Regions from separate parts of the Homo sapiens genome. Here regions 1 and 3 are each linked to region 2. Evidence: fine-mapped expression QTL. A gene starts in region 2. Each other region holds a variant in brackets. All regions are shown on one strand. Distances are between the middles of the regions.

Evidence for each region.
Region 1: its variant is fine-mapped to the expression of IRF2 in monocytes after LPS (Fairfax 2014, PIP 0.95).
Region 3: its variant is fine-mapped to the expression of IRF2 in whole blood (TOPMed, PIP above 0.99).

The regions. Positions count from the first base shown.
Region 1 is chr4:184,327,145-184,333,601 of GRCh38, reverse strand. No RefSeq gene overlaps it. Among named protein-coding and RNA genes, the nearest start is that of MYL12BP2, 16 kb to the right of the region's middle. RefSeq lists an enhancer at 5,038-5,597. The variant T/C (reference allele first, on the strand shown) is at 2,769.
Region 2 is chr4:184,471,133-184,477,589 of GRCh38, reverse strand. It overlaps IRF2 (interferon regulatory factor 2), which reads left to right and starts at 3,040. Exons shown (of 9, transcript NM_002199.4): 1 at 3,040-3,211. IRF2-DT (IRF2 divergent transcript) reads right to left here and starts at 2,788. Exons shown (of 1, transcript NR_186573.1): 1 at 286-2,788. RefSeq lists enhancers at 2,002-2,331, 2,682-2,871 and silencers at 2,902-3,021, 3,832-3,881, 3,962-4,651, 4,712-4,781.
Region 3 is chr4:184,384,607-184,391,063 of GRCh38, reverse strand. IRF2 (interferon regulatory factor 2) reads left to right here. Exons shown (of 9, transcript NM_002199.4): 8 at 315-361; 9 at 1,998-3,335. The coding sequence ends at 2,306. Among named protein-coding and RNA genes, the nearest start is that of LINC02362, 5.5 kb to the right of the region's middle. RefSeq lists enhancers at 460-1,193, 1,194-1,927, 3,933-4,691, 6,210-6,457. The variant T/C (reference allele first, on the strand shown) is at 3,759.

The sequences.
Region 1 (6,457 bases), 140 kb after region 2:
CCGGAGAAGCAGAAGCTGCCACGCTTCCTGTGCAGCCTGCAGAGCCGTGAGCCAATTAAACCTCTTTTCTTTATAAATTACCCAGTCTCAGGTATTTCTTTATGGCAAAGTGTGAACAGACTAATACAACCATGAACATAAAAATACTCAGTAATAGTTTCTGAATTATGGAAGGATTAGGAAAAAAGATAAATGTTCCATTTTTGTTATAGAAATGTATCTACTAAATTGTTACATATTATAGCTAACTTAAGAGAAAAAGAAAAGGGGTTCCTTATGTCCAGAAAATAGAACATTAAGAACAAGCAATGTTCCAAACAAAAAGCCATAAAAATTATACTCCTTCTTTAGTTGATTCAGTCCTATGTAATTAATTCTTGTTTTGCTTGATCATGGGTTAGCAGTTTCATGAACTCAACTAGAGTTTCGAAAACCCTCACTCAGTCCAGCAGTATGATATTCAAGTTTTTTAGGCCATGTCAGTATCAGATGGGGGCTGGGGAGGTTGATGGGTAGAAAATTATTAAGAGAAGTAATTACCAAGAAAAATATCAAGGGGAGGGGAATTCTTGCTAAACTGACTTTAACAGGATTCTTGCTGAAGGCAGACCAGTGTGGTCAGAGGTCAAGGTTGAGGGACTCTCACTAAATTGGCTTAGCAGGATCCCTGCTAAAACTGGACTAGGCAGGCTGAAGCCTGGGTCCAGGGATGAGTCCTGTTAAAAAGAGGGCTGAGAGGGGCCTTCTAAAGTTTGGTCACTGAGACTGTCTTTGTCAAGGGCCCTTCCTATGTAGTATTTATGACGGTATTTTGTCTGGCATTAATAGAGTTAATATTGTGTGCCTTTCACAGCAAATCAAAAAATATCAGAGCATTTAAGAGTATCAAGATATCATGTTGACCTTGGAACTGATAGCTTGAAGCAAAAAAATAAAAAAATTGCTGCTTAATTCCTCTGATAAGCTCTTGAAATAACTGAACTCTAACCCTGGTAACCGTCACCTACTTCACAAGGTTGATGGAAGGCACAGGTAAGAAGAGAAAGCCATAACTGTTTGAAGATGGGCAGATTCTGACCAAGACTCCAGACTGTAAGGCCAGGAAAGAGAGAGGGCTTTCCTAAGTCTTGAGCCCAGGTGTATGCCTGGATCCCCAGTCTGGGCTCTGGCAAGAGACAATCAAAGATCCCAGCAAAAATATTACACTGTTCCAATTCATGGTTAAAAATGTTGGCATAGGTAGTGGTATTTATCTCTGGGTTTTTAATTGACAACCAGGAGCAGCGAGTTAATATTGAAGAGCCCTATTCAGGAATGAATATACACACTCCAGGGGTGGTCTGTTGGAATTTGAAAGACTATTAAGAGGCTCCTCCTTTGGGAGGCCGAGGCAGGCAGATCAGGAGGTCAGGAGATCGAGACCATCCTGGCTAACATGGTGAAAACCCATCTCTACTAAAAATACAAAGAATTAGCTTGGTGTGGTGGCACACGCCTGTATTCCCAGCTACTCGGGAGACTGAGGCAGGAGAATCGCTTGAACCTGGGAGGTGGAGGTTGCAGTGAGCCGAGATCATATCACTGCACTCCAGCCTGGGCGACAGAGCTGGACTCGGTCTCAAAAAAAAAAAAAAAAAAAGAAGAAGCAGCTCCTGCTCTAGAGAGTCAGCTATAAGAACTTCCTCTATCCTCAATGAACACCAACAGCTTTGCTATCTGGCATAATGGATTTTAGGAGTCATTTTCATTGGTGAAGTAAGAGTTGTTCAAAATATTATGGGCTGACTGGAAGCACTGTATCAGATTGCATCTCCTTGCATAAACAGGGTATTATGACCTAGAAAGCCTAGTGGATAATGTATGCCCTTCCAAATGCTGTCTCTGGTTTGGGATTTGAATCAGGACTTGTATCCACAGCTCATAGAAAGGTTCCTGCACCTGACCCTGACTAGACATGAAGCTAAATCATGCTGTTCGAGTACTGTCACATCTGCCTTAAGTGAATCTGTTATGTAAGGCACCTGTCAGTGTGCCAGCAGAACAAAGCACCAGTACTTGGTTGAGTTTACAGAACTGGTTGTACCACGTTTTTGAGCCTGCTGGCTTCTAAATGTTTATTTTATGGCCGAATTCCGTCTGAGACTTGCTTTCATTGTAACATACCACCTGGTATGAAGCTGAGGAGACCTATAGCCCTCACCTACATCTATTATGGGCCCACATACATGTGTTTGTGTTTCTTAGCTTAGGGAGGTTTCAGAAGCCCCGAGGCTGGAGTAAAGCATGGTTACGGACTCTTGTTGTAGCAGAAATGTTGCTTACTGTCTTTCTATGACCCTTTGTATTTCTGTGTATTGGTTCTTCACCACTAATAATAAACCGCCTCAGTTCTTTTCTTAGAAGGACGTTGAACACTAACTATACGGCATTGAGCTAGGGATGAATTAAAGGGGAGCTCCCTGGAACTCCAGGAACTGTTTTCAAAATGTGCCTGTTTGTGTTTATATGGTAACGTTTGGCTGAATCCATTTCACCTTCTGAGTAACACTTAAGGCAAAGCTGAAATTCTTGCTGTCAACAAAACCCCCAAGACTACAATTTCTACCCAGCCTCTTTCAAAAAGCATGGAAAACCTCCTCCATTCCAGCTTATTTTTGCATTGAGGCTGGTATTTCATTTGTTTGTTCTTTCGCTTTCTTTAAGCACCACTGCCCAGCAGTGTGGCGTGAGTACTGCTTGCTTTCTGCTCCCAGTCTCACTTTTTTTTT[T/C]TTTTTTTTTTGAGACAGAGTTTTGCTTTGTCACCCAGGCTAGAGTGCAGTGGTGTGATCTTGGCTCACTGCAGCCTCCACCTCCTGGGTTCAAGTGATTCTCCTGCCTCAGCCTCCTGAGTAGCAGGGATTACAGGTGTGCACCACCACACCCAGCTAATTTTTGCATTTTTTGTAGAGATGAGGTTTCACCATGTTGGTCAAGCTGGCCTCAAACTCCTGACTTCAGGTGATCTGCCTGCCTCAGCCTCCCAAAGTGTTGGGATTATGGGCGTGAGCCACCTCGCCTGGCCCCAGTCTCTCATCTTTGTACCACACATATAACTTTGGTTTTGTAAGTAAGAAAATGCTTACTCCTTGCTGTTGACTACACTGTGAGATTCCTTTTGAGAACCCCACAAATAAAGTCAATACAACCATCAGGAATCCTTAGACTCATTAAAATTCCAGACCCTGTAAAAACAATATTTCCTGTTGAATCTCAACATGAACAAAGAGTGATCAACTGAGAGTCAAACGTGACTGTGGGATGAGTGAGTTTGGACATTAACCACATGATGTGTAGAGGAGGCACATCTCTTGTTGACACTCGCTTGTCCATGTGACACTTCTGCTTTCCTGACACGCACTCATGGATACCACGAGTGTGTGTGTCATGGGAAGTGCACGCCACCGAGCGGGCGCGGGGGCTGACCGGGCTGGGTCACTGCAGTGAAAAGTCATGTGGAAAAAGCTACCATTCATTTAATTGTTTTCACTTCTCACCTTGAACTCAGCTTTGTGACCACTCTGTGAAAACAAAACCAACACAGGTATCCTGCCACAGAATCGCCATGTGTTAAAAGATTCCACAGAGGTGTGACTGGACAGCAAACAGCGTTTTTCAGAGAGCTCCCTGTTAGTGGCAAAATGAACATTCCCTTAGGAGGGCAGATCCCTTTTCTCAAAAGGCCAGAGGATGGGGATGCGGAAGGGGGTTGACTGTCTGATTGGGATTTATGCCAGTGGAATGCAGCCAAGTTGTGCTTATAAAGGCCTTATTCTTCCTCAGGTCAGAGCAGTACTACTGGGAGAGCCAAGGCGCTTCTCTGGATGCACTCAACTACAGGGATCTTTCTTTTGTACATGCTTGAATATTTACCATTAGGTTTGATGTAGTGGAAAGACTCCTGGATTTGGAATCGGAAACTCTGAACGAGAAGACACTTATTTTGTCACGGTACGGGAGGAAATGTATCTTCCTTGCCCATCTCAGGTTCAGGGCTGAGGCCCATATAAGAAAAGACAGATTAAGAAGAGAAAAGTATACACATTTAGTTAATCTAAGTTTTACTTGACACGGGAACCTTCATAAGGAAATGACCCAGAGAAACAGTTCAGCCTGGCTTCTTTTGTACAACAGGTTTGACGAGAAGTGGCCAGGTGTGCGGAAACGTGATTGGGGAAAGAGTGTGGTCTGATGGGAATAAACTGGGGGAAACTGAGCAAGGCCTGTTTGTTCAGCTTCTTCTTTGTCTTCAGAAATAAGGATGTTCCCTTTCTCCGGGTCTAGGGAGGGCACCGCTCACAGGAGGGTCTTACGATGACCTGCTTCAGGAGAAGGTCAGAAAATCCTTCTTAGGTTTTACGACCTGATTCAGCAGGCAAGGTGAGGGGAAAGGTGAGAGGGAGCTTCTTGCACGTGCCATCTCTCAGATTCCTTCAGCTTAAGATATTCAGTGTGTCAAGGTACCACAGTTTGGGGTAGCATGTCCTGAACCCTGTCATTACTTAACCATTCTGAGCCTAGAGCTGTCTTTTGTAAAATGCAGATAATATCCCACGCCTTACAGGACAGTTCAATCAGAGGAATAAATAAAAGTGCCTATGCAGGTACCTGGAGCATAGTACATGCTCAATAAATGTTTTTGCTCTCAATCTAATTTTAAAATTAATTATATCGGTGTAATCCTTCCATAGCTCTTATTTAATTTTTATGTTTGACTCCCCAAGGAGGTTGTAAATACATCCTAGAGGGAAGGGACCTTAGATTATCTTTTTATGAAAAGTCAACAGCAGTAAGTGAAAGAAATCACTGTACATTAAATTTTTTTGTCAAATGAATGTCACTGCTTTCTAAAAGTACTTAAAAAACACTGATATTATGCAACTTCCTCCTAGCTCTGGAGACATCCTGGAGGTTACCCTTATGACTCAACTAAGAAAGCCCCTCAGGACTGAGGATGGGACAACTGGGATGTAATTGGGAATTGAGGGGGTGATGGAGAGATCCACTCTCCATACTGTTCTCTAGGAACAGCGGGGACACACCTGCTGCTCTTGTTCATCAGCTCGTCAGCCATCAGGCTGCCCCTTTGCTCTTGCTTTTAATACACTAGCACCTGTGCAGGAAAACAGAAGAAAAGAACACACATTCTTCAGGCCTTTGTGATCCCTCCTGTGTTCATTCGAGTGAACTAGAGAACCAGAGCTGGGAAAACCCCCATGGCGATGCATGCAAAGACATGCACACAGGTGACTCCTGTCTGGGTACTAGCTGGAACAACAAACACTATGCTATACGTTCTCTGAGGTCCACGTGGTTGAACTTGAGTCTGAGAAAGCATCTTGTCTGATGGGTTCACCCAGAAGCATCTCAGGTCAGGACAGAAAAATCCTGACATCAGGAGCATCCATGCTGCTTTGCCTTGACCAACCGGTCACCCTGAGTGTGATGGAAACTAGATTTACTCTGGCTATTGAGGCATGGTCTTTCTCTTGCTCTCTTTAATAGAACTTCCTTCTTTCACTAACAATGAGGTTGAGAAAGTATGTTGAGGCTTAAATATTTCAACAAGACGGAGCGCCAAAAGCCAGGAGCTTCCCAGTATTTCTGAAGCTCTTTCCGCTTTTCCAGAATCAACCCCCTTTTTCTATTTACTGTCATCCATTAAAATATAATGCTCTGTCAACACCACTGTTTCTGTTTTGAATCTTCCAAGCCTGGGTTTGGTAAACAGTTTTCAATTCATTGACTGTTAATCATTCATTTATCTGCATGTTCAATGACACCAGCATTTGCTGTGTTCTTCCTATGTGCTGGTCGCCGGGTTTTACAGATGAACAAAATGAAGCTCAGAGGATAATCACTTCTCCAGTGGCAGCTGCTAAGCAGCAGAGCTGGGATTTGAAAGAAGCTACTCAGGCTTTAAGTCCCATGTATTTTATTCAATACACCTAATTTCAACATCTAGCAAAAATAGAAAACTGATGATAATCTACCTGTAATTATGGATACTTTCATTCTTTTTTTATTTTAATTTTTTTTGAGGCAGAGTCTTGCTCTGTGGCCCAGCCTGGAGTGGAGTGGTATGGTCTCGGCTTACTGCAACCTCTGCCTCCTGGGTTTGAGCAATTCTCCTGCCTCAGCCTCCTGAGTACTGGGACTACATGCATGTGCTACCACACCTAGCTAATTTTTGTATTTTTAGTAGAGACGGGGTTTTGCCACTTTGGCCAGGCTGGTCTCAAACTCCTGACCTTAGGTGATCTGCCTGCCTTGGCCTTCCAAAGTGCTGGGATTACAGGAGTGAGCCACTGCACCTGGCCTATCCTTTCACTCTTAAAGGAACTTTTCCAGCTATTCCACCCAACTGGCTGCCAGCGTTACCTTCCTAAATAACTTTGCCTTTATCATCTCTAGGTCAACA
Region 2 (6,457 bases):
ATATTAAAAAGCTATTAAAATATAAAACAAGGCTCTGATCAAGTCTAAAATATTTTATGAGAGCCTGATGAAAAGAGCAAGTAATTATTAATTCACAAGTATTTCAGTGCCTGTGTGCTGGGCACCATGCTAAAGATAAAACAATGAACAAGAGGACAGCTCTGTTGTTTGACAAAAAGGAGCGGAGGCTGGTTTGGCAAGGGAGGGATGTAGGGCTTGTGGGACACAATGGCAGGAGATGAGGCTGGAAAGGTCGTTTGGTGCCAGATTACAATGGACTTTATGTGTCTTGTCAAATAATATGGTCTTTATTCTGAAGGCTACAGAGAGGCTTTTGAGGGGGGCAGTGTTAGGTTTGGAATTGTGCTTTACCTGAAGTTAATTTTCGACTGGATTTTGGCAGTAGTGTGGCTGCTGGCCTGGGGGAGTCCAAGCAGGAGACCAGGAGCACAGGCAGCAGGCAAGTGCAGTAACTGAATGAAGGCAGTGCCCTGAGCACGGGCCAGGCCCAGAGATATTTAGGGGTAGCGTCAATAGGATATGACTGATTGGATGTATGTTGCACGAAGTAGGGCATTAAGAAAAAAAAGGAACAACAAACTTCTTCCTGCTTATCAAAGACCATAATGAGGGCAATGGCCTTTCCTGAAACACGTTCCTTGGGAAGTCAAGCATGAGCATCACAATAGTTTGGAAGCTATCTGCACCCAGCAAGTGAGTTTCCAGTTAGCCTCACGCATGGCAATAGGTGCTTAGGATGCAGGATGCAGGTTCGTGGCCCCGGCCCTGTCTGGCTCCCCTGAAATCACACCACAGAGGCAGCTGCCTTTCGTAAACACAAGGCAGGCAGTGTTAGCTGGTCCAACTAGACCTCATTCTTTCTTTCACCTGGGGCCTGTGCACGGAGGCTGCTGACATGAGTGGACTCCCACGTGTGTGGTGAACGAGAAGTTCAAAGTGACACTTTGCATTCTTCCCTTCTTCTCCACTCTCCTCTTCCCGCTCCAGGAAAAATAAAGGAAGATGATTGTTTTGGTACAGGAAAAAAAAAATGAATACTAGGTTTTTAACTTGTGTCCCGGGTTGGGTAAAGAATGACAACTATTCTATAGTTTGTATAGACTTTCCCTTAGTGGTCATTGCTATATGACATAAGAAAGTCAGTGCCTGGGCCAGGCACTGTCACAGGCCTGTAGTCCCAGCTACTTGGGAGGTTGAAGCAGGAGGATCGCTTAAGGCCAGGAGTTCAAGGTTACAGTAAGCTATGATAGCACAACCTGAGTGACAGAGCAAGACCCTCTCTTTTTTTTTTTTTTTTTTTTTTGAGACAGAGTTTCGCTCTTGTTGCCCAGGCTGGAGTGCAATGGCACAATCTCGGCTCACCACAACCTGCGCCTCCTGGGTTCAAGCAATTCTCCTGCCTCAGCCTCCCAAGTAGCTGGGATTAGAGGCATGCGCCACCAAACCTGGCTAATTTTGTATTTTTAGTAGAGATGGAGTTTCTCCATGTTGGTCAGGCTGGTCACAAACTCCCGACCTCAGGTGATCCTCCTGCCTTGGCCTCCCAAAATGCTGGGATTACAGGCATGAGCCACTGCACCCGGCCTACCCTGTCTCTTAAAAAAAAAAAAAAGTGAGTATTATAATAGAGGGGATAAGGAATAATGTGTATGTGAGGTCTATTTCTGAGACCAGAGCCACAAAACAGAATCCTGCACCTTAGCCATTTTCTTACCACACGCGTTTTCTTGGATACTTCCATTTTTCCAGTCTATATAATTCAATACTTCTGTGACAGAGAGGTGTTGGAGTTTTTTGTTTTGCTTTTGTTTTTTCGCAACTCTTTACATACAAACAGCTATGGTCTCCCAGGAAGGAACTTCCTCTGTTGAGTACAGAAGTCTGGGAAAAGACTGGTGAAATTGCATGCGAGGAAGAAACAGGTCTAACTAAATGTGAATCTATACTTTTAAAGCAAGGGACCACAAAGGGTAGGTCCCAAGGAAGTTGCATTGCTTGCTGCACTTGTCACACGGGCTGTACTTTCTTCTCTCATTTATTTCCATTTACAGCGTTGAAAACTGAGGCCTTAGGCTTTGGTTGAAAACCGAGGCCAAGGGTGACCAGCCAGTGAGTTAAGGAGGCCCCAGCCGAACTTTGCTGGAAGTGCTCCAGCATAAAGCCTCTCTCCAGAACCAGCCGCCACTGAGACGTCTTGAAGTCAAAGTAACTCACACCCTTGTCCACCTCGCCCTGCGGTGAAGAAACTTCGGTCGCACAGGCTCCAGAACTCATCTTGGCGTGGGCTGTGACTTACTGGGGGATGGGCCTCCTTTTCGTTCTAGCTCCTAAATGGAGCGGAGCGCCAGGTGGTGTCAGAGGGGGCGGCGGCCCCTCCAATGGTGGCACCCTCAGCCACGGATAAGGTTCCAATTAGGTAAGGACGCAAGTAATGCTGTCGTTTCGGCTGACTGCTCCTTTCATTCCTTGGAGGTGGTCGGTGTCACAAAACGAATTTTCATTTACTCTCAACAGTCACACCAGCCCTGCTAACTGGATGGTCGCAGCCCCGTGCCTTCGCCGGACGCCCTCCTGGAACCTTCAGGCCACCCTGAGGATGGAGACTCGGGTGCCCGCTCTCCTCCCCTACCGCCGCGGGCCTGCGCCCCCCGCCCCGGACCCCGACTCGGACGTTCTAGCCGCACGTGCGGGCGCCCCTGGGTGCGAGCCGCGGACTCACGAGCCGCTGCTTGTTGCTCCCGCCGCCGCGACCTGGGGAAGCGAAAATGAAATTGACTTTTCCGAGAAATGATGAAAGCGGCGCTGCCCGCCAATGAGCTGCTGCGGCGAACTTCCGCACCTCCCGGCCGGGCCGCTCGCGCCCTCCCTCCGCCTCCACCTCCCGGTTGCACAAGCTTGAAACAAACACTGGGGAGGAAGGGCGGAGGGAGGAGGGCGGAGAGGGGAGGCGAGGGAGGGAGCGCGGCCGGAGGAGGGCGGGGGGTGGGGGGATTTCCAGCCGCGGCTCTTCGCAGTTTCCTCTCCTTGTTTTGCTTTCGATCTGGACTGTTCTCAGGCAAGCCGGGGAGTAACTTTTAGTTTTGCTCCTGCGATTATTCAACTGACGGGCTTTCATTTCCATTTCACATACCCTAGCAACACTTATACCTTGCGGAATTGTATTGGTAGCGTGAAAAAAGCACACTGAGAGGTAACATTTTTCAAATAATAGTTGTGACTGTGTGTGTTTCTCTCGAGGGCATGTTTCTGGGGACTGTGGGGGGCCGTGTGTGTATGCGTGTCCTGATGCCTTGACACGATGTTTTGCAGACGGAAAATGCCGGGGTTCATAAATATTAATACTGATTTTTGGAGGAACAGTCGGCGCAATTATGGATCATCTGATTTTAGGGGAAGCAGGTTCTGCTGCTGTTGCTGCTGCTACTGGGGCTGCTGAGGCTGCGAGGAGGAGGAGGAGGAGGAGGTAGAGAGGGAGGAGGAGGAGGAGGTTGGTGGAGGTTTAATTTCACTTTTGGATTTGCAGATGCGGAGAGGTGGCTCCATGGACACAGACCTGCTGTGTGTGCTTCTGCGCCCCAGGTGTTGTGTGTGGGGGTGCAGGTCAGCTGGAGTCGGGCCTCATTTAAAACAAAATTGTGTGTATGTGCGTGTTTGTGTGTGCGCGCGTGTGTGTGTGTGCAGCCACCGCCGCCACCGGATCCGAAGGAGGGGAGCGGGTCCTTCTCGGTGCCCGCGGCGGCGCCTCTCCAGGCTGCCTCCAGCGTAAATAAGCAGGCACCGCTCCCCGGCCGGGAGGAGCGCCTCCAGCCACGGCCAGAGGAAACTTGCTGGGGCGCCCCGCGGCGGTCCAGGGGCTCGCCTGCCTGCCGGGCTCGGGGTCGGGTCGCGGGCGTCGGGTGCCAGCGGCCGGGGCGGGAGGGCGGGCTCGGAGCCGGGCCGGGCGCCGGGCCTGGCCGACGCGCCCTGCTTCCTGGGGGCTGGGCCGCCGCCGCCGCCGCTCAGAAGGGACGCCGCGTCCTCCTTCCCGCCGGCCAGCGCCCGGTCGGGCCCTGGGGCTTTGTCATTGCACTTGTCCCAGCGCGCCAGGGGCTCGGGCGGCGCGTCCCAGGAAGGCACCGTGCCGAGGGGTCAGCCGCCCGGGCCGCGGCCTAGCGCCGTGCGCCCCCGGGTCCCCGCAGGCGCCCCCGGCCGGCCTCGCGCGCTGGGCCTGACCCGCCTCGGCTACGGAGCGGGCGAGGTGGGGGCGGGGAGCCTCCGGGGACCGAGCGGCGCAGTGGGGGCCGGCGTCCCCTCGGGGTCCCGGGGCGCGGGCCGCGGCGGGGTGGGGACGCGAGTGCCCGCCCCGTGCCCTCCGACCCGGCTCCGGGCGCCGGGTGACATTCGCCCGCTGGCCGAACATGGTTGGTGCAAAGCCGCGGCGGCCGCCACTTCCTTTCCGCCTCGCCGGTAGGGCTCGCCCACCGAGTGAAGCCGGCCGCGGCCAATCGCGGCGCCCGCCTGCTCCCAGTGGCACGGCCTGGGGGCCGGCGTCCGCCGGGGCTGGGGAAGCCGTTCCAAGTTCCAAGGGTCGCGGGTGTAACTCATGCCCCTCCCAGCACGCGCCGGCGTCTCCCCTTGGCCCCCGGTCTGGGTGCGTTTGCCACCCTCTCCTCCTTGTTCCCTAAGAAGCGGGGGAGGGGAAGGAGGCGGGCAGCCTGGGCAGGGCGCCAGAGCCGTGGTCGGGCACCAGGTGAAACGCCCGGGTCAGTCTGTGTAGGCCGGACCCTTGGCGCTCGGCTGCGGATGTGATCCCGGGGACTGGCGGCCGAGGTAGCTCAGAAGAGCGAGGTGGCTTTCGCTCGTTTCTGACCCGCTACTGTCTGAAACTTGGGGACATATTGCCCGCCCCCTCCCTCTTCAACCTCCTCCCTCCGGTTGCTCCTTGTCCTTGGTTATGGAAGGAAAAAACTCAGTTGTTCTAAATGAGGAAAAGTGGTGCTGGCATTCGTCTTCAGCCACCGGCCTCCTTATGGCTGTGACTCGGTCTGCTTTTGATGAATGGCCAGGAGGTATGGAGGATAGTTAGATTTCCTGTTGTGGATTTTCAGGCATCACCGAGACTGCTGTCAAGCCTGCAGTCATTTACTAGTTTTCATATCGACTGCAGGTTCTCTTTGAGCAGTTCAGTTTTTGGTGCTTAAGGGCAGGTGCACAACGGGGTCTGGGGTTAGACCAGGCGGTGGATAGTCTTGATGCTAGGCAGATGCAGTTATCCCTACCAGGCCCAGAGGGTGACTCTGTTTAACTTCACCACGCACGCAGATTCAGGATTCTCTGATTTCCCCAACTTTCCTTTATTCTTCTTTTAGTGGGAGAAGGGGCAAAAGTAGAAACCTAAAAAATCCTGGGAAAAGGAGCCTTTTCTGAGGAAACTTCAGCAGATGAAATATTTAAGACTTGAACTGGGATCTCTAGGGGGAACGTTGGAACATCTATTGATTGATGTGTCAAAGTCCGGAATTTCACTGTAATTAGTGAACGATTATAACTTGTAACTTTGTCTGTTATGTAAGAAATTACATTTTGGTCTCTTAGATCCAAGAGTTCTTGTCTGTTACGATTTGTAACTGCTTGTTAAAATTAAACATTTACATATTTCATTCTCAGTGAGTTGTCATTTTTTTGTTAGAGAAAGTTCCAGTTATTTCAGATTTACTTACCTGTAAAAATGTCAGCATAATCAAAAGTAAGGATCTGTAGTCAAACTGGAAGCAAATTATGGCAAACACATGCGTGCCATGAAGTTCTGACAGCCTTATGAACAATGGTCCCACTTTTATCCCACTTTCTGAAACACTTTATTAGGCAAATAGTGCACCAGAGCAAAAGATGTTTAAACTTACTGGAAAAATAGACACTTTGGATGCTCCACATTTGATGTGCATCAATTTTCTCATGTTACCAACGATGTTATATTTTTATTCTTAACATCATCTCGTACAAAACTGTTGTTTTTAGAGCATTTTCACATAATATCCTTTTGATAGTGAAAAACCACTGTACTCTATCTAAATGGAGTATCTGGGTTATAGTTCCCTTATCTGCCTTATACCAAAAAGGGCTTAACGCAGACAAGAGAATTTATGTACACACTCAATAAATATCCTTAGAACATCTATTATAAGCCAGACACAGTGCTAGCCTCTGTATACTCAACTGACAGCGAGAAAGACAGCATCTTTACACTAGGTTGTGTTCTGGTGAGTGAGCTGACCATTAACAACAAAAAATATAGTTATTACCTTTTGGGGTTAGCTGTAAGGAGGATAATAATAATTTTTAACTATATCTCGTAAGTGTTGCTTTCATGAACAATTGAGATACTGTATATGAAAGAACATTGCATAAATTATGGCAGTCTACAAATGTGTAAGGCATTAACTTTCAAAATTATATC
Region 3 (6,457 bases), 87 kb after region 2:
CATGTGGGCATTGTGGACAGAGCTGCAGTGAGGAGGGCCCCAGGGACCAGCGCCCCTTCCTGGGAGGTAGTGCCCAGTGTATACACAGCCCGGCCCTGGCCAAGGGAGCCTCCTCACAGCTCTCAAGCCTGGTTTCTCCGAAGATTACAGAGTTGAAATTCACTCTAGCTTCTCCCATGTAGAATGTTTCGCTTTACAAAGGGAGGGAGGTGATGCGTTTAGTTACTCAGTCTCCTTTTTATAAACACTGCCTGAGCCTGGGGACAGCTTGAGGGACAGGAATGATGGCCCTGTGTTTTTCTCTCTGTGAACAGAAAGCGAAACGACTGATAGTGTGCCCAGCGATGAAGAGAGTGCCGAGGTAAGCCACTGCCCAGCCTGCCCACGATGCTGCCAAGGAAAAGCCTCCCGACCAGCTCCGGGCTTTCCTTGCTGCTGGTTATGCACCTTTCCTTTAGATCACAAGCTTCACTTTGGGATTTTCTTGTGTGGTGAAATATGCATCACCAGAATTTACCATACTTTTGGGTTTGGGGTTATAAAATTCGGCGTTGGAACTGAAAGGAGGAAAGGGAGTTAAATGTTACCATCAGGTAGAGAAGCTGTGATAGCAGGAAAAGGGAATTGAAGTGGAGGCTGGGAAATGCCGATGCTCTTACCACTTAAACATCCTACTTCACCGGCAAAAATAGAGCAGCCTTCCCAGCCAAAAGCAGTGACCAGTACACGTCACAAAATGCTAAGCAAAAGCCTCTTCCACGTGTGCGTGGGTTCCCTCCCGCTGTGACCCGTGCCCAGAGCTGGTTGTGTGCCCCATCTCGATTCCGAGTGGGTCCCGTCCCCTCTCCCTCCCATAGATGGGGCGTGCACAATGGCAGAAAGTGGCTGGAATGGAGATGGAAAGCATTCCTGCTGGCCACCTGCTGGGGGTCTGCGCTTGAGTGAATGAGAGAGAGAGAGGGAGGGAGCAAGAGAGAGGGAAGCTCATGGTTGTTTGAATTAGTGGTTTCCCATGTACTAAACACTTTGAGAAAAAGTGCAGGGATTCTGAAAAGACAGATGTACACGCTCCCATACACCCTGGCCTGATTTCTTCAAGGTTGCAGCTCTAGCCACTTCTCTGAATGAAGCCAGCCCTGAGGCCGCTGCTTGCTGTACACCGTGGAGCTCTAAGCCGCCCCCATTTGAAAGCAATCAAGGGGCATTCATTGCCTGTCACTAAGTTCCTCGCTGCCTTTTCTCTGAAAATGCAGGTTGGCTCAGGTTGACTGGGCCAGCATTGAGGGACCGAGTCGCTGTGCCACACTGGCCATGGTGACCTGAAACCTATCGAATAATCGGGCCGAGCCGCAGAGCACAAGGGAACCAGAAACCAAGCTGCTGCCTTCTTTTCCTGCCTTCACAGAGTAGTCTGGAAAGTATTTCTGGGAGGTAGCAAATGGGAATTGATTTTTTAAAAAAAAAGAAAAGGGAAGAAAAACCATTACTTGGCATATGAATAGCTGGGTGCAATAGATTTCAGTTGAGGGATGTAGAGGTGCTAAGCCTTTGTTCATTCTGCAGTTCTTAAGAAACTCAGCTAAAGCACCAACACATGGGAACGACACATTTTTCATTTTAAAATTTTTTTTGTGGGTTGTTGTTTTGAGACAAGGTCTCATTCTGTTGCCCTGGCTGGAGTGCAGTGGCGCAATCATAGCTGACTGAGGCCTTGACTTACTGCGCTCCAGTGATCCTCCCGCCTCAGCCTCCCGAGTTGCTGGGGCTAAAGGTGTGCACCACCATGCCTAGCTAATTCTTACGTTTTGTAGAGATGAGGACTCGCTACATTGCCCAGGCTGGTCTCAAACTCCTGAGGTTAAGTGATCCTCCAGCCTCAGCCTCCCAAAGTGCTGGGATTACAGGCATGAGCCACCACACCTGGCCAGTGATGCATTTTTAAAAAGCCATCCAATAGAAGGAGAAGGAAATACATATCTTAATTACTTTCTTGAAAGGGGCGGCCACACTGGCGGAAGAGGAATATTGAAGGCAAACAGTACCTCAGCAACATGGGGACTCGAGGCTCCTACCTGCTGCCCGGCATGGCGTCCTTCGTCACTTCCAACAAACCGGACCTCCAGGTCACCATCAAAGAGGAGAGCAATCCGGTGCCTTACAACAGCTCCTGGCCCCCTTTTCAAGACCTCCCCCTTTCTTCCTCCATGACCCCAGCATCCAGCAGCAGTCGGCCAGACCGGGAGACCCGGGCCAGCGTCATCAAGAAAACATCGGATATCACCCAGGCCCGCGTCAAGAGCTGTTAAGCCTCTGACTCTCCGCGGTGGTTGTTGGGGCTTCTTGGCTTTGTTTTGTTGTTTGTTTGTATTTTATTTTTTTCTCTCTGACACCTATTTTAGACAAATCTAAGGGAAAAAGCCTTGACAATAGAACATTGATTGCTGTGTCCAACTCCAGTACTGGAGCTTCTCTTTAACTCAGGACTCCAGCCCATTGGTAGACGTGTGTTTCTAGAGCCTGCTGGATCTCCCAGGGCTACTCACTCAAGTTCAAGGACCAACAAGGGCAGTGGAGGTGCTGCATTGCCTGCGGTCAAGGCCAGCAAGGTGGAGTGGATGCCTCAGAACGGACGAGATAATGTGAACTAGCTGGAATTTTTTATTCTTGTGAATATGTACATAGGCAGCACTAGCGACATTGCAGTCTGCTTCTGCACCTTATCTTAAAGCACTTACAGATAGGCCTTCTTGTGATCTTGCTCTATCTCACAGCACACTCAGCACCCCCTTCTCTGCCCATTCCCCAGCCTCTCTTCCTATCCCATCCCATCCCATCCCATCCCATCCCATCCCATCCCGCTCTTTTCCTACTTTTCCTTCCCTCAAAGCTTCCATTCCACATCCGGAGGAGAAGAAGGAAATGAATTTCTCTACAGATGTCCCATTTTCAGACTGCTTTAAAAAAAATCCTTCTAATCTGCTATGCTTGAATGCCACGCGGTACAAAGGAAAAAGTATCATGGAAATATTATGCAAATTCCCAGATTTGAAGACAAAAATACTCTAATTCTAACCAGAGCAAGCTTTTTTATTTTTTATACAGGGGAATATTTTATTCAAGGTAAAATTCTAAATAAAATATAATTGTTTTTTATCTTTTCTACAGCAAATTTATAATTTTAAGATTCCTTTTCTTGTTTATCAGCAGTTGTTATTACATCCTTGTGGCACATTTTTTTTTTTAATTTTGTAAAGGTGAAAAAAGCTTTTATGAGCTCATGTAGCAATCAGATTTTCCTGTGGATTGATAATAAATGAATATGATATATAGTTAAATTTTTAAGGGGCATCACTCCTGGCTTTGTCTGTGTCTGCTTTAAAAGAGCATAATCACGGAATAGGACTGACAAAGGATTGTTTCTTTTTGGGGACCAAAATGTTTTCCCTTGTTGACCACAAGAAACCGTGGAGGTTCTTACTGTGAGGCTTCAGTTGACTTCTTCTCTTGAGTGCTCGCCTGAGCAGGGGCCCGTGCTGAGCGTTTTGCATGACTTCCCGTCTTCATTCATCACACTTGTGCTGTAGAATAGGCATTCATCTCCATTTCATGTGGAGGAAATGAAGACTGAATGTGAAGATGCCTTTACTTGGCTCATAGTGGCACTAAGAGGCAAGGGCACAAGTTGGGCACAAGTTGAGCCCAATTCTCTGTGCTATGAAGGGGGTCTTTTTTCTTGTAAGCATATCCGTTATCTCAAA[T/C]GTCTGTCTTCCTCTGTGTTGGGAGCATTCCCTGTGGAGGGGGAGTATTTTAGCCACGCCACTGGTTTCCTTCTCTGCTGTGAGCAAGGTTCACCCCACTCTGTGTCTTTCCTGTTTTCATCCTTAGGCTTACACGTACGACAAACGTCTTGTGTTTATGTCACTTAGAGGGGTGCATGGATAAGACATTTTCCACAACAGGAAATATGTATTGGGCTCTAACACCATGTCCGTCACTCGTCTTTCTAGGACCCGAGGCCTTACACATAGACCGTGCCCTCAAAACTTGGGGTCTGTCTTGTGGAATAAAAGGGGTGACTTCAAGAACACCAGTCTTTATCAGCCACTTGGTGTTTGAAGGTATAGTCTTGGCCTGGAGAAAGCCACAGCACCAGCCTCCCCTGCATCCCCAGTATCTTACTCTGTAAAATCAGAATATGAAAACTTTGCTACCCGCCTACTACCTCTGGGGGGTTGTGGAGGAGATTGCTAAGTTAATATTTGAAGAGGTTCCTTTAATGAAAGGACAAAAGGCTATTTTTATGCCTATCTCCATGTGTGGCTGCAGATATAATTAGCGGTCATAAAGTTATCCAGCCCTGAATGGAAATCAACTGGAGCATTTTCCTGGCGGATGCGTTGTAGTTGAAATGCCACACACAGAGGCGGGGCTGCTTCTGGAAGGAGCACTTTCGTTGACTGTCTCAGTTTCTCAGTGGAAGGGGAGTTATCAGGAAGAAACAGATGCTCCCTGGCTCCTTGGCACCCGACTTTTCAGTTAAGACCTGCTCTTCCCCCAGGTCCTGAATGGAGAAGTTCAGTTCTTTGAGACTTACATCTAAAATGTTTTACTGAGTCATCCTATTTTAAATAAATTAACAAAACAGCAACGGAAGGTTGCCCTGAGTCACGTGGCCTGGTTATCAAAGGGTTTAAGGTAGCTCAGGTCTCCTCCCCCTTCCTTCTTCCCAACACAGACTCAGGGCTTCTTCCTGCATCTCGGTCCCGAATGCCATTCCTGCTGCCCTCCCCTTGCTTCTGTAGCGTAACTAGACTTCCCAAGGCCCATCAAGTGGAAGAAAATTCAGGACTTGGAAATGCACCATTTAAGTTCCAGAGATGATACTCCATTGCCAATAAGGCCATGAAAAACAGAATCATGTTTAAAATCCTTCTGAGAAAGCCTGTATTGTTTCTAAGTGATACTTGCCAGCAACGCAGGAAAACAAGCTAGTCTCAGGATGCCTGGGGTTGACATGGGGAAGGAAAACAAAGGCATTGGGGCAGCTCCTGGACCCAAGCCTCAGACCTTGTCGTCACTTAGAGGAAGTGCCAGGGACGCATGCTTCTGGTTGGTATTTGTGTGAGCTGATAGGCTTTGATGATGGGCTTGGGTGTGTGTGTGCACGTATGCGTTTAATAGCAAGTTCAAGTTCAGTGTAACTGCCTTTGGAACAATAGTTTCCATTCTCTGCAGCCAGTACCTGGGTCACTCCCTTGATAATGGGCTCACTGTACAGCTGTGAACTGTGAATTCAGGGACATGTATTTCTGCCCAGCCTTGAGGTTGCAAGCACCCAGCACATCCACACACCTCGATGAAAGGGGCTTCTGGAATGCCATTTGCACATCTAAATAAATCCACCCTCAACCGTACTGTTTTGTCCGTGTTTTGATGAACCACTGCCAAAGGTGGTATTTAGTCTATTTCAAAGGATTTGTAAAAAAGAAATACACATGGCTATGGAATACAAATTCTTTGGACATCAAAACCCTAAAACAATACCCTTTCCCCACCCAAATCCCAAGTGTACCGTACTATCATGTAACCACTACTGAGACAGAGATTTTAGAAGTGAAGGAGATGAGTGATTTGATTTCAGGAGTCTGAGTTTTCAAACTTGTGCTTTTGGAAGTGCTTTGCATGTGAATGGAAAGATGGTAAGCCCCAGCTGGCCTCCTGCCCCTAATTCAGAGAGATGGAACATGAGACGTTCCTTCTGCTTGAGGCCACTCTGTAACCTGCGTTCATTAGGCTTTAAAGGCCCCCTGCTATTGTAGTTTTGGACAAATAAGCCCAGATAAAAGGTTAAAAAAAAAAGAACCCCCACTATTCTGCCAGATTTCTCCTGATAAAAGACAAAAGCTAGGGAAAGGTTTACACACAGGTAGCCAAGATGAGTTCATTGGCATTCAGGGGTCAAACAGCTAATGTCTGAGTGCCAGTTTGGTTTGGAGGCACAAACTGGTTTTTACATGGTGCCGTTCAGCCGCCTACCTCACCCTGAAACTCCATCCCACAGTACAATGACGTGCCTGGGGCCAGAGTTATCAGAGCAGGTGGGACGTGACTCTGACCTCCCTCTGTCCCCAGGCTGCAGTGGACCCCTCCCAAGGGCAGTTGGGTGACACCATCAGCTTCTTGAGGCTGCTTCTCACTCATTTGCACCCCAGCATGTGAATCAAGGTTGGGTACTACTAGGCTGTCATCCCTGGGATCTCCTCCTCCCCAGAGCCCCACCATCCCGGTGTCAAAAGAACAGGGCTGGGACTGTTGGCTTCACCCCCTTAGGAATGTGTCCAACCACAGGCCTGGAGAGGAGAGCCCGGCCGTGCGAAGCTTCAGGTCAGGAGATGCAGGAAGCTGGCAGGAGTCAGGGGGAGATGCTTTTTCGTGAGGCTGTCTGGCCTCTGGGTCC